Linked DNA regions of Homo sapiens. The protein of the gene in region 1 purifies or fractionates together with the protein of each later gene. This does not show direct contact. Each region holds a gene or a part of one and is shown on either strand. Other genes may lie near its edges. The genes, in order: AMMECR1, PPP3CC and PRIM2.

Region 1 (3,661 bases):
GTGGCATCTTTTGTATCAAGTGTGGGTGTATTTTCTACAGCTCTTAATGTTTCAGACATTGAAACTTGCTCAAAGTTAAAAATGTTAGTGTTGAATAGCTGAGTGGAAATTATATGTCATTGGAAAAAAAAACCCTGTTTTTGTAAAAAATATACATTATCCTGAGTTTCATGGTTGGAAACCAGAAAAATAGAAGGAATAGTCCTATCCTCACAGAGCTTACAGTCCTGTTCAAGATATGATACTATTATCAAAGTTGCTTGAAATACTTACAAAGCAATATATACATGATTGTAGATTAATAAAATACACATAAAATGCATACACATGGAAATGACATGGAATAAAGGAGTGGTCAGGGAGAAGGCTATAGGGAGGGAATAACTGGAACCAAGTTTTGAAATGGAGGAGGTACAGAAATTATTGGTAGAGTCTGTTTGACCAGTAGATCTTGAAGTCTTACTTGGTTGTTCTTAAACCCGTTGCTGTCACCACCACACCCCTTGCCACAGTACTTGGGGATTCCCAGCAGCTGTCTTCAGTCAGCAACTTGCACTCTCAGCATTCTTCATATCACTCCCCTTGCTCTGGTCTCTAAGATCATAAAACTTCAAGGAAATTAAAAGTGGCCTTTGTGTTGAGAATCCTCTGGGGAGGCTGGATAAGAGATCTTGTATCTGCTTATAGTTTCTTGTATTAGGAAGAGAACAGGATTTGCAGAAGAGTCCTCTAGAGTATCAGATGAATTGGGAGAAGAGTCTCAAGATAGGGGAGACTAACTAGGCTTAAGGTTATGAGGGCAGTAGGAAAACTGGCATTGGAAAGTGGGAAAGCCACCCCAGGGGCAGAGTTTGTGAATATAGGAATGTTGCAAAATTGAGAATTGGAAGAAGTTATCAGCATATGCAAGGGTTCATACTCTAGGGCCAGGTTTTGTGTAGGAGTGGAAAGATTGTAGCTCACCTGTTTTTGGCTTCCATCATTGCCTCTTCTTTTCTTGGCTCTGTGCCTAGCTATTCTTGTGCTCAGAAAAAGTTTGTTAAACAGCTCTGTTGAAATGGCTATGAAATTTGATCACAGGCATAAGAACTCTCCTCCCCTTTCCCTCTTCACCTATTCCCAGCTGTATCTAATTTGGGAGAAAGGATGAGAGGACACATCGGTTTATAGAATTTGTATCAAATATAAAGATAGCTGGAATAGCTTTTGGATGAGGACCTGTGATTAGGTGACTACATGTGCATGGAGAGGCACTGCAGGAAAAAAAAAAACAAATTCTGGTTGCTTGGCAGAAGTAAAAGAAGAGAGGCTTTGAACATGATTCAGAGTTCATAAGCCTGGGGAACCATGAGGATGGTGGTGCCATTAAAAAACATGGGGGGAATATGGGAAGAAACAAATGGTTGGGCAGGTGAAATCAGATTTCTTACTATGTGTAGTTCCAAGTGTTGGCAGTTATCAAATGTTATTTCTTTTTGAATTACCAGAACCACAGAGCAGCAACAGAGCTATTGTGATGTTTTAGTTGGCCCCTTGGGATCACTCCCCCACTTTGTGACTTTGAATGGCTCAGATAAGTAGATATCAGTGATAGTTTTCAGCTTTGTACTGCTAGTAAAAATACCTGGCAGAATTTTGGGTTTCTTTAATGTAGGTTTTTACATTTTCTTAGTCTTCAGGCTTATCAATTTGTAAAGCAGGCAGTGATCCTTTTATTTCCTTATGTGTATATCATAGTACAGCCTTGAGCAAGATAAAGCCTCGTGGCAGGCCATCTCAGGAATTCATAATTTCAGAACTAAAGGGAAATTTTTGAAGGACTAGAAGTGCCTTTGGTACAAGATTCTAGGTTGTGTGTCCTAAAGCTTAGAAAGTAAAATAGATTGAATCAAGCTGGATCTGTTTTGTGGCTTTGCTCAATGATGAAGGATGGATGTTATGAACTGATGGGATCAGCCATATTGCTTTAGGATCTTTGCGATCTTCAGTGGATGGGCAAAAGTGAAAAGTTCTGCTTGAGTAAAGACCTACTAATACTAGTTTTTTTCAATAAAGTCTGTGATAGTCTTGATGATTCTTGCCTTTTCCCTATCTGTTTCATTTTACAGATAATCCACATTGTTACCCAAAGCCACATGCAGTGCCGGGAGAGCACAGTTGACTGTTTTATGCAGTATCCTGCCAGAAGATGCTGACCAGTTCTCTAGTAATAGAAAGTAGTGAGATTGAATTAAGAGCCTATATAGTTCACCTTGCCATTCGATATACTTTCACTGTGATCTGTAAGCATATTACATACAACTTTAGTAACATATTTTCTAGTGAGATCTTGGATTGCTGCAAGGTGGTAACAGATTCTCTGCTTTGCTTCAGGTGTTAGTGGATCTTTGAGTAATTCCTATGGAATGGAGTCTCTGAAAAATTGGTTTTGATGCTGTTAGCCTAGGGGTCCCACAGCACTGTATCTGCCTCAAATAAATGCTTATGTACTAGTTACATTAGTGTGTTTCTTTTCTGTGATATCATTATCGCTTATAGTAGCCTAGCAACCACACGGTTAGGTTTAGGTGGTTTGGGGTGCAAATAAATTATATAGCTGGTAAAACTTGGGCCTCAGTACATAATTCATTGTAGCAAGGCAAACACTTTGTGCTGATTTTGAACAAAAGTGAAGTGTTTAGATTGACGGGTGCTTTTTTACCTCCTTTTTTATATGGTAAGTAGAAGATGGCATTGGTGATTTATTCAATAAAGAAGAATCTCATGAAGTCTTTGCCTTTTTTCCATGTTAGAGTAGGTATTCTCAACACAATTCATGTGTTCTCAACACAATTCATGAGTTTCCCTATGATAATGACAAAAACAAATTAAAAAAAAAACTTGCCACAGCTTCTTTTGCATTAAAACAAAACAAGCCAATAAAAAACTTGCCACTAGCTTGGCTGGGTACTTGATTTTGTGGAATAGCTCTTTGATGTTAGGAGTAGGTACAGAGAAAGTCAGTAGTTAAAATTTTTTTTGAGTTCACAGATCCATCTACCCCCACACTCTTCTACTTGTCCATTCAAAAAACCCTCACAAGAACAAAAAGGAATAATATTCTATTTTTCCGACACTAATGAGGTGGGTGATATGTGGTTTGTGGTATACTTTACTCCACAAACTCCTCCAACTATTGTCCTGTCTGGCAATTTTTGTGGGAATTGACTCTCCCACATTGTAGGCATTGGCTGTGTGGAGAAAGAGAGTCACATGTGGTTCGAGGCAGGGACAGAGGGCATATAGGAATCAGGGAGGGAGTAAAATGAATTGTATTCAAGTTAAGTGAAGCATGGATTCAGGGCAGAAAAGGGAGATTGAGCACCTGATCTGGAGCAGGAGTGCTTTTTATGTTTTACATCATAAAAACTTAGATGTCCCTCCTTTAGAATCAATGGCCACAGCATTCTTGTTAAAAAATAATTATTCTGGCTAGGTGCCATGGCTCACGCCTGTAATCCCAACACTTTGAGAGGCTGAGGCAGGAGGATTGCTTGAACCCAGGAGTTCTAGACCAGCCTAGACAACATAGTGAGACCCCCATCTCTACAAATTATATATTTGAAAAACTTAGCTGAGCATGATGGCATGCGCCTGTAGTCCCAGCTACTTGGGAGGCTGA
Region 2 (3,661 bases), on another chromosome or scaffold:
GAGGATCATTTGAGCCAGGAGGTTGAAGGTGCAGTGAGCCATGGTAGTGCCATTGCACTCCCATCTGGGCAATAAAGCGAGATCCTATCTCAAAAACAAATTTTTTTTCTTTAATAATATATTAAACTTAGCTTACTGTTAAGTTTTTACTTTATAAATGTTTCAGTTTTTAAAAACTTTTGGACTTTTTTGTAATAACACCTAGCTTAAAAGACAAGTACATTGTATAGCTATAGAAAATAATTTTTCTTTATATCTTTATAGGCTTTTTCTATTTAAAAAGTTTAAATTTTTTTTTAACTTTTAGAATATTTTGGTAAAAATGAACACACACACACACACACACACACACACACACACACACACACACTGAGCCTAGGTCTACACAGGGTCAGGATCATGAATATCCCTGGCTTGCCCCCCTACATCTTTATCCACTGGCACACCTTCAGGAGCAGTAACAGGCATGGAGCTGTTATCTCCTAGGATAACAATACCTTCTTCTGGAAGTCCTCCTGAAGGACCTGCCTGAGGCTCTTGAGGAGATGTCACTCTTTTCAGAAATTTGCCCATGGTGTTTTGCTTGGTTTATTTCTATTTTTCATTGTAGATTTGTTTGTAAGCAGTTAATGCAGCATGAACATTCCTGTGTATTAATGAAAACCTTTCTGTTTTTGGGGGTCCATGTTTTCACACTTCCTAAGGAGTTTGTTGAGGTGTGCAAAAGCTTCTCCCAAACCCTTCACTGTGAGTTTTGTTGGGGGTTCTTTTTCTTTCTCCAGCAAACTTCCTTCTCTCTTGCTGCTTCTTCAGCTTTGCATTCCTATTCCAGTTCCCACTCATTAGTCAATTCCTGCGATGTTATTGTGGCTATAACGTTACTAGATGACAGGAGTTTTTCAGCTCCATTTAACTACAGTCCATTGTTGACCAAAACATCATTTTGTGGCACACAACTGTATTTAGCTATTTTAGTGGTTGGGTAGCTGCTATCGTTTTTTCAGTGAAATTTGAGTAGTTAAAATGAGTCAAGTAGTAGCTGAAAGCATGACGAAACTTATAATAGGACTTTCTTTACTTGTAAATGATACAATATGGTATGGCTAGATTAAGTCTTTTAAAAATACTCATAGATTTCAACTTGGTTCCATAAAGCTGGAAGTGGAAACATTGGACATATATCAGAAATTCAATTGAACGCCTCCTTTTAAATTTATGGTTTACAGACTTGTGGCTCTTAGATCCCAGGGGATCTAAAGTAGACTGTGTTATAAAGTAGGCACATAACAAGACAACAGCCAATTTAAAAATATTAAATGAACTTGCTAATTCTCCATGATATTATATATATAAACTTTGTACCTAATGTAAACTGAAGGTAGTTATTAGCATTTCCAGGTTAGAAAACATAACTGGACTTCCCTTATCCACTTTTTTTTTTTTTGAAACGGAGTCTTGCTCTGTCGCCCAGGCTGAAGTGCAGTGTCACAATCTCGGCTCACTGCAACCTCCATCTCCCAGATTCAAGCAATTCTTCTGCCTCAGCCTCCCAGGTAGCTGGGATTACAGGTGTGTGCCATCACACCCGGCTAATTTTTGTATTTTTAGTAAAGACAGGGTTTCACCATGTTGGCCAGGCTGGTTTTGAACTCCCGACCTCAGGTGATCCACCTACCTTGGCCTCCCAAGGTGCTGGGATTACAAGCGTGAGCCACACCACACCCGGCCCCTTATCCATTCTTTTATGCTCTGTTACTACAGCAAATTATTCTCAGACATAGCTCCATCTTGGTAGTAGTGTTCTTGTTATTATCAGTAACAAAGTACATTAAGCTACTGCCTTTTGTTTTATTCTGTTTTGTTTTGTTTTATTTTGAGACAGTGTCTTGCTCTGTTGCCCAGGCTGGAGTTCAGTGGCGCGATCTCAGCTCACTGCAACCTCTGCCTCCCACGTTCAAGCGATTCTTCTGCCTCAGCTTCCCGAGTAGCTGGGATTATGGGCACTTGTCACTACACCTGGCTAATTTTTGTATTTTTAGTAGAGGTGGAGTTTTGCCATGTTGCCCAGGCTGGTCTTGAACTCCTGACCTCAAGTGATCTGCCTGCCTCAGCCTCCCAAAGTGCTGGGATTACAGGCGTGAGCCATGGTGCCCGGCCGAGACTTCTAAAACATAGGTGTCATTAGGACAGTTCTATAGGAGAAATAAATGCCATTTTAGTATTATGACTACTTTTCTTTCATTTTCTTTAACCATAGTTTCATTTTTAACACCTGTTCTATAGATAGAAAAACAAAGATACTCATGTCATCTAGTGTCTTGTCTCATTTATAACTTGTTCCCTGAATCAGCTTCAAGTCTTTCATGTTTATGTGTAAAACATAGGGCTGGGCGCAGTGGCTCACTCCTGTAATCCCAGCACTTTGGGAGGCCGAGGCAGGTGGATCACCTGAGGTCAGGAGTTCGAGAGCAGGCTGGCCAACATGGTGAAACCCTGTGTCTACTAAAAATGCAAAAATTAGCCAGGTGTGGTGGCATGCTTCTGTAATCCCAGCTACTCAGAAGGCTGAGACAGAAGAATCGCTTGAACTCAGGAGGCGGAGGTTGCAGTGAGCTGAGATCGTGTCACTGCATTCCAGCCTGGGTTGACAGAGCAAGCCTCCATCTCAAAAAAACAAACAACAAAAACCATTATAATTTATGCACACACAAATATTTAAAATGACTGTCACCTTTTTATACTTAGAATTGATCATTTATGATACATAGTATCTTAGAATTTTTTCCCCACGTACTGGTGCTGTGGATGTGAAATCATGGTGATTTATTAGGTTTAATTTGTCATGTAAAAGAATTGTGTTCTGTTTGTTCTCTATACATTTAAATATTTTAAATTATTATTATTATTTTTTTGTAGCTGTCCCCTTTCCTCCAACCCAACGGCTTACTTTCAAGGAAGTATTTGAGAATGGGAAACCTAAAGTTGATGTTTTAAAAAACCATTTGGTAAAGGAAGGACGACTGGAAGAGGAAGTAGCCTTAAAGATAATCAATGATGGGGCTGCCATCCTGAGGCAAGAGAAGACTATGATAGAAGTAGATGCTCCAATCACAGGTATAAAAAGTCTTTGCATGATACTTTTTTACAGTATAGATTTGCATGAGCAGTTTTGAGAAATAATTACAAATAACCAGCTAAAAAGTGGTGTGGTAATTTTTCTAGAAATTATGAGACAGTCAGGATTGGTTAGGATATTTGTTGTTAATTGAAGAAATACAATTTTAAGTGTCTCATATTTCCAGTAGAACTATTTAGTATGAGTAGATTGACTACAGTTTTACAGCAGTCCTGTCAAAAGCTGGAGTGATTTAAGTTAGAAGTTAAACTGTGATCCCTTTTGGTGTAATGCCCTTCGTCTTCTAAGGTATAATTTCTCACATCACTTTATGCTTTTTTTCCTAGTATGTGGTGATATTCATGGACAATTCTTTGACCTAATGAAGTTATTTGAAGTTGGAGGATCACCTAGTAACACACGCTACCTCTTTCTGGGTGACTATGTGGACAGAGGCTATTTCAGTATAGAGGTAAAAATTAAACTGGATATGTTGGGACTATTATATTGTCTTTCAAAAAAGATGATTTCCATTCTTCAGTAGAA
Region 3 (2,521 bases), on another chromosome or scaffold:
AATCTCTTCTTGTAAATTTCACTGTGACTGAATACAAACATGCCTGGTTCATAACTTATGTTATTTTTTCTCAAATACTATCATTAAACTTTAATTTTGAGTATCATTTCAAATTATGCACTCTAGTAATCTCTCCTTATATTCAGTTTCACTTTCCACAGTCTCAAATCCCTGCCTTCTCGCCTTCTGCAGTTGGAGTTGACAACAAAAATATCATTTTGCTTGAGTGAGTGACTGTTGGTTTCTTGGGTGGTATTTTCATTTATCAAGTTTTTGGAAACTGAGAAGTTATTCCATTTCTTTTGTTCATCTGTCTTGTATTAACTAATCCTTTTACGTCTCACTCTTCGTACTGAAGTGACTTGCACACTGTAGGTATCTAATAAATATTTGGTGAAGTGAACCCAGAAATAGTGTATACCAGTGATAATTTTGCATATTTAATTAAAGCCTTACTATATAAAAGACTGTGTTATAAACTATTCACTATTCAGCATACAGGAATACATTTGACTAACTCAAATTTCCAACCCAGTAAGTCATATACTTAAAAACCTCTACCAAGAATGGAGAACTGATGAGGGTCACAGATAAAGGCCTATTACACTCCACAGTAGAGAGAAATTTCGGCTGAGGAGATCAAGGAAGGCTTTGTAAGAGGAGTGCTATTTGAGTTGCGTCTGGAAAGATGGAGAGGGTGAAAAGCTGGGATGATGAGGGGAAAGGCAATATTTGCAGCAGGACCACATGAGCAAGGTAAAGAGGGAATGTCCTGGGAAAGCAAATATTAAATAGTTCACATAGCCTACTATGAAAGGCACATACAAGGAAACAATAAGGAATGAGGTTGGAAAGACAGGCAGGGGCCAGCCTGAGAGAGCCTTGAAAATCAGGGTAAGTGGTCAAGACCTAATTCTCTAGGCAACACAGAGTCACCAAAAACCCTTAAAAAGAGACGTGGTGTGATTAAAGCTATGTATAATCTTTTAGTAGATTAAAATGAATTGGCCAGGGAAAAAGGGGTTGCTGCCATGGTCTAGAATGAACCCTACTGGTGGACGGACCAGCAGACAGAAACATGAGTCTTTTCTGGTAATACTTATCTAAGCACCCTAGGAATCTCTGATTCTCTTTTGCTAGTTGTTAATACATGTTAGGCTAATTTTATAGTAATTCCAGTGTGTAACAGATGGATAGTATACAGACTGATTTTAAGAGTTATAGATCATTAAGAACAAATTTTTATCTTTGCTTCATTTTTTTAACTTAGCTGCTTGATTTCAAAATGTTTCTGAAATGTTTTATAATTTTTATTAACAATGGAATCATTTGTGAACTTTTTTATTACATTCAATTTTCACCCAATTCATTAAAAACTGGGAAATCCAATATAAATTTTGCATTTTGCAATGTGTTTCACAAAAAGTATGTTTATTGTCTAATACATTTTAATCAGAAGGCTTTACAGTTTGTAAAATAGTTTGTAAACAGAGAATCAGAGATTAGAAAGACCTTGGGGAATCCATTAAATTCAATCTCCTCCATGTACAGAGGCCTAAGGAGAATAGATGGTTTATTCAAGGTCATAGAATTAGTAACTGGTTTTGTCTGAATTAAAATTCAGGCCTTCTGACTAGATCATTAGTTGCTCTGAAATCTGTTTTAAGAGATTGTATGCAAAATCATACTGATAATGATATCTCCATTATAAATTTTATTTCTAGAGATAAACTTGGCTACAAAGATTAGAAAAACATAGTTGTACTATTTCATGCAAAAATAACCTAGTATCTTATGCTATAATAATATCTTGGCATTTTCTATACCTCGCTTCAAGTTGTCAGTTAGCAATACATTTATTAGACTTCAATGTGCACAAAATAGGGTAATCTTTTTAAAGTCTGATTTTCTCCATCTATGAAATGGAGATAACAGTGTTAGGTCATAGGGTTGCCATGGGAAAAGTAAATAAAAATGAATGTTAAAAAAAATTGTTCTATGAAATCTAAATAAAATGTTTTTAAAGAGTCAAGAAAAGCAAGTCACTTAAAAAAAAGGTGAAAGTCACAGAAGGAGAGGGAGAAAGATCCTATTGCTTTGCATATATCAAGTTCCTTTTCTACTTTAAGGAATCCAAACTGGAAATTGCTGATGCTGTATTATGGGTATAGTTTATAAAAGAAAGATAAAATCAAATTCCAAACACTAAACGATACTCAAAAGACCCTGCCCTAACTAATAAATGGCATTTAAATGACTTAACTTTAAGATATAATATTTAAGGGGCTGGGCGTGGTGGCTCACGCCTGTAATCCCAGCACTTTGGGAGGCCGAGACGGGCGGATCACGAGGTCAGGAGATTGAGACCATCCTGGCTAACACGGTGAAACCCCGTCTCTACTAAAAATACAAAAATTAGCCGGGCATGGTGGCGCGTGCCTGTAGTCCCAGCTACACGGGAGGCTGAGGCAGGAGAATGGCGTGAACCCGGGAGGCGGAGCTTGCAGTGAGTCGAGATCGC

Evidence for each region.
Region 2: the proteins of AMMECR1 (region 1) and PPP3CC purify together in Homo sapiens (affinity purification with mass spectrometry; one large-scale study listed by BioGRID and IntAct). This does not show direct contact.
Region 3: the proteins of AMMECR1 (region 1) and PRIM2 purify together in Homo sapiens (affinity purification with mass spectrometry; one large-scale study listed by BioGRID and IntAct). This does not show direct contact.

Annotation. Positions count from the first base shown.
Region 1 is NC_000023.11:110,307,985-110,311,645, reverse strand, and holds part of AMMECR1 (nuclear protein AMMECR1), read left to right. Parts: intron 1-3,661.
Region 2 is NC_000008.11:22,472,038-22,475,698, forward strand, and holds part of PPP3CC (serine/threonine-protein phosphatase 2B catalytic subunit gamma isoform), read left to right. Parts: intron 1-2,916; coding exon 2,917-3,114; intron 3,115-3,462; coding exon 3,463-3,587; intron 3,588-3,661. UniProt on the Homo sapiens protein: Calcium-dependent, calmodulin-stimulated protein phosphatase which plays an essential role in the transduction of intracellular Ca(2+)-mediated signals. Dephosphorylates and activates transcription factor NFATC1.
Region 3 is NC_000006.12:57,642,504-57,645,024, reverse strand, and holds part of PRIM2 (DNA primase large subunit), read right to left. Parts: intron 1-2,521. UniProt on the Homo sapiens protein: Regulatory subunit of the DNA primase complex and component of the DNA polymerase alpha complex (also known as the alpha DNA polymerase-primase complex) which play an essential role in the initiation of DNA synthesis.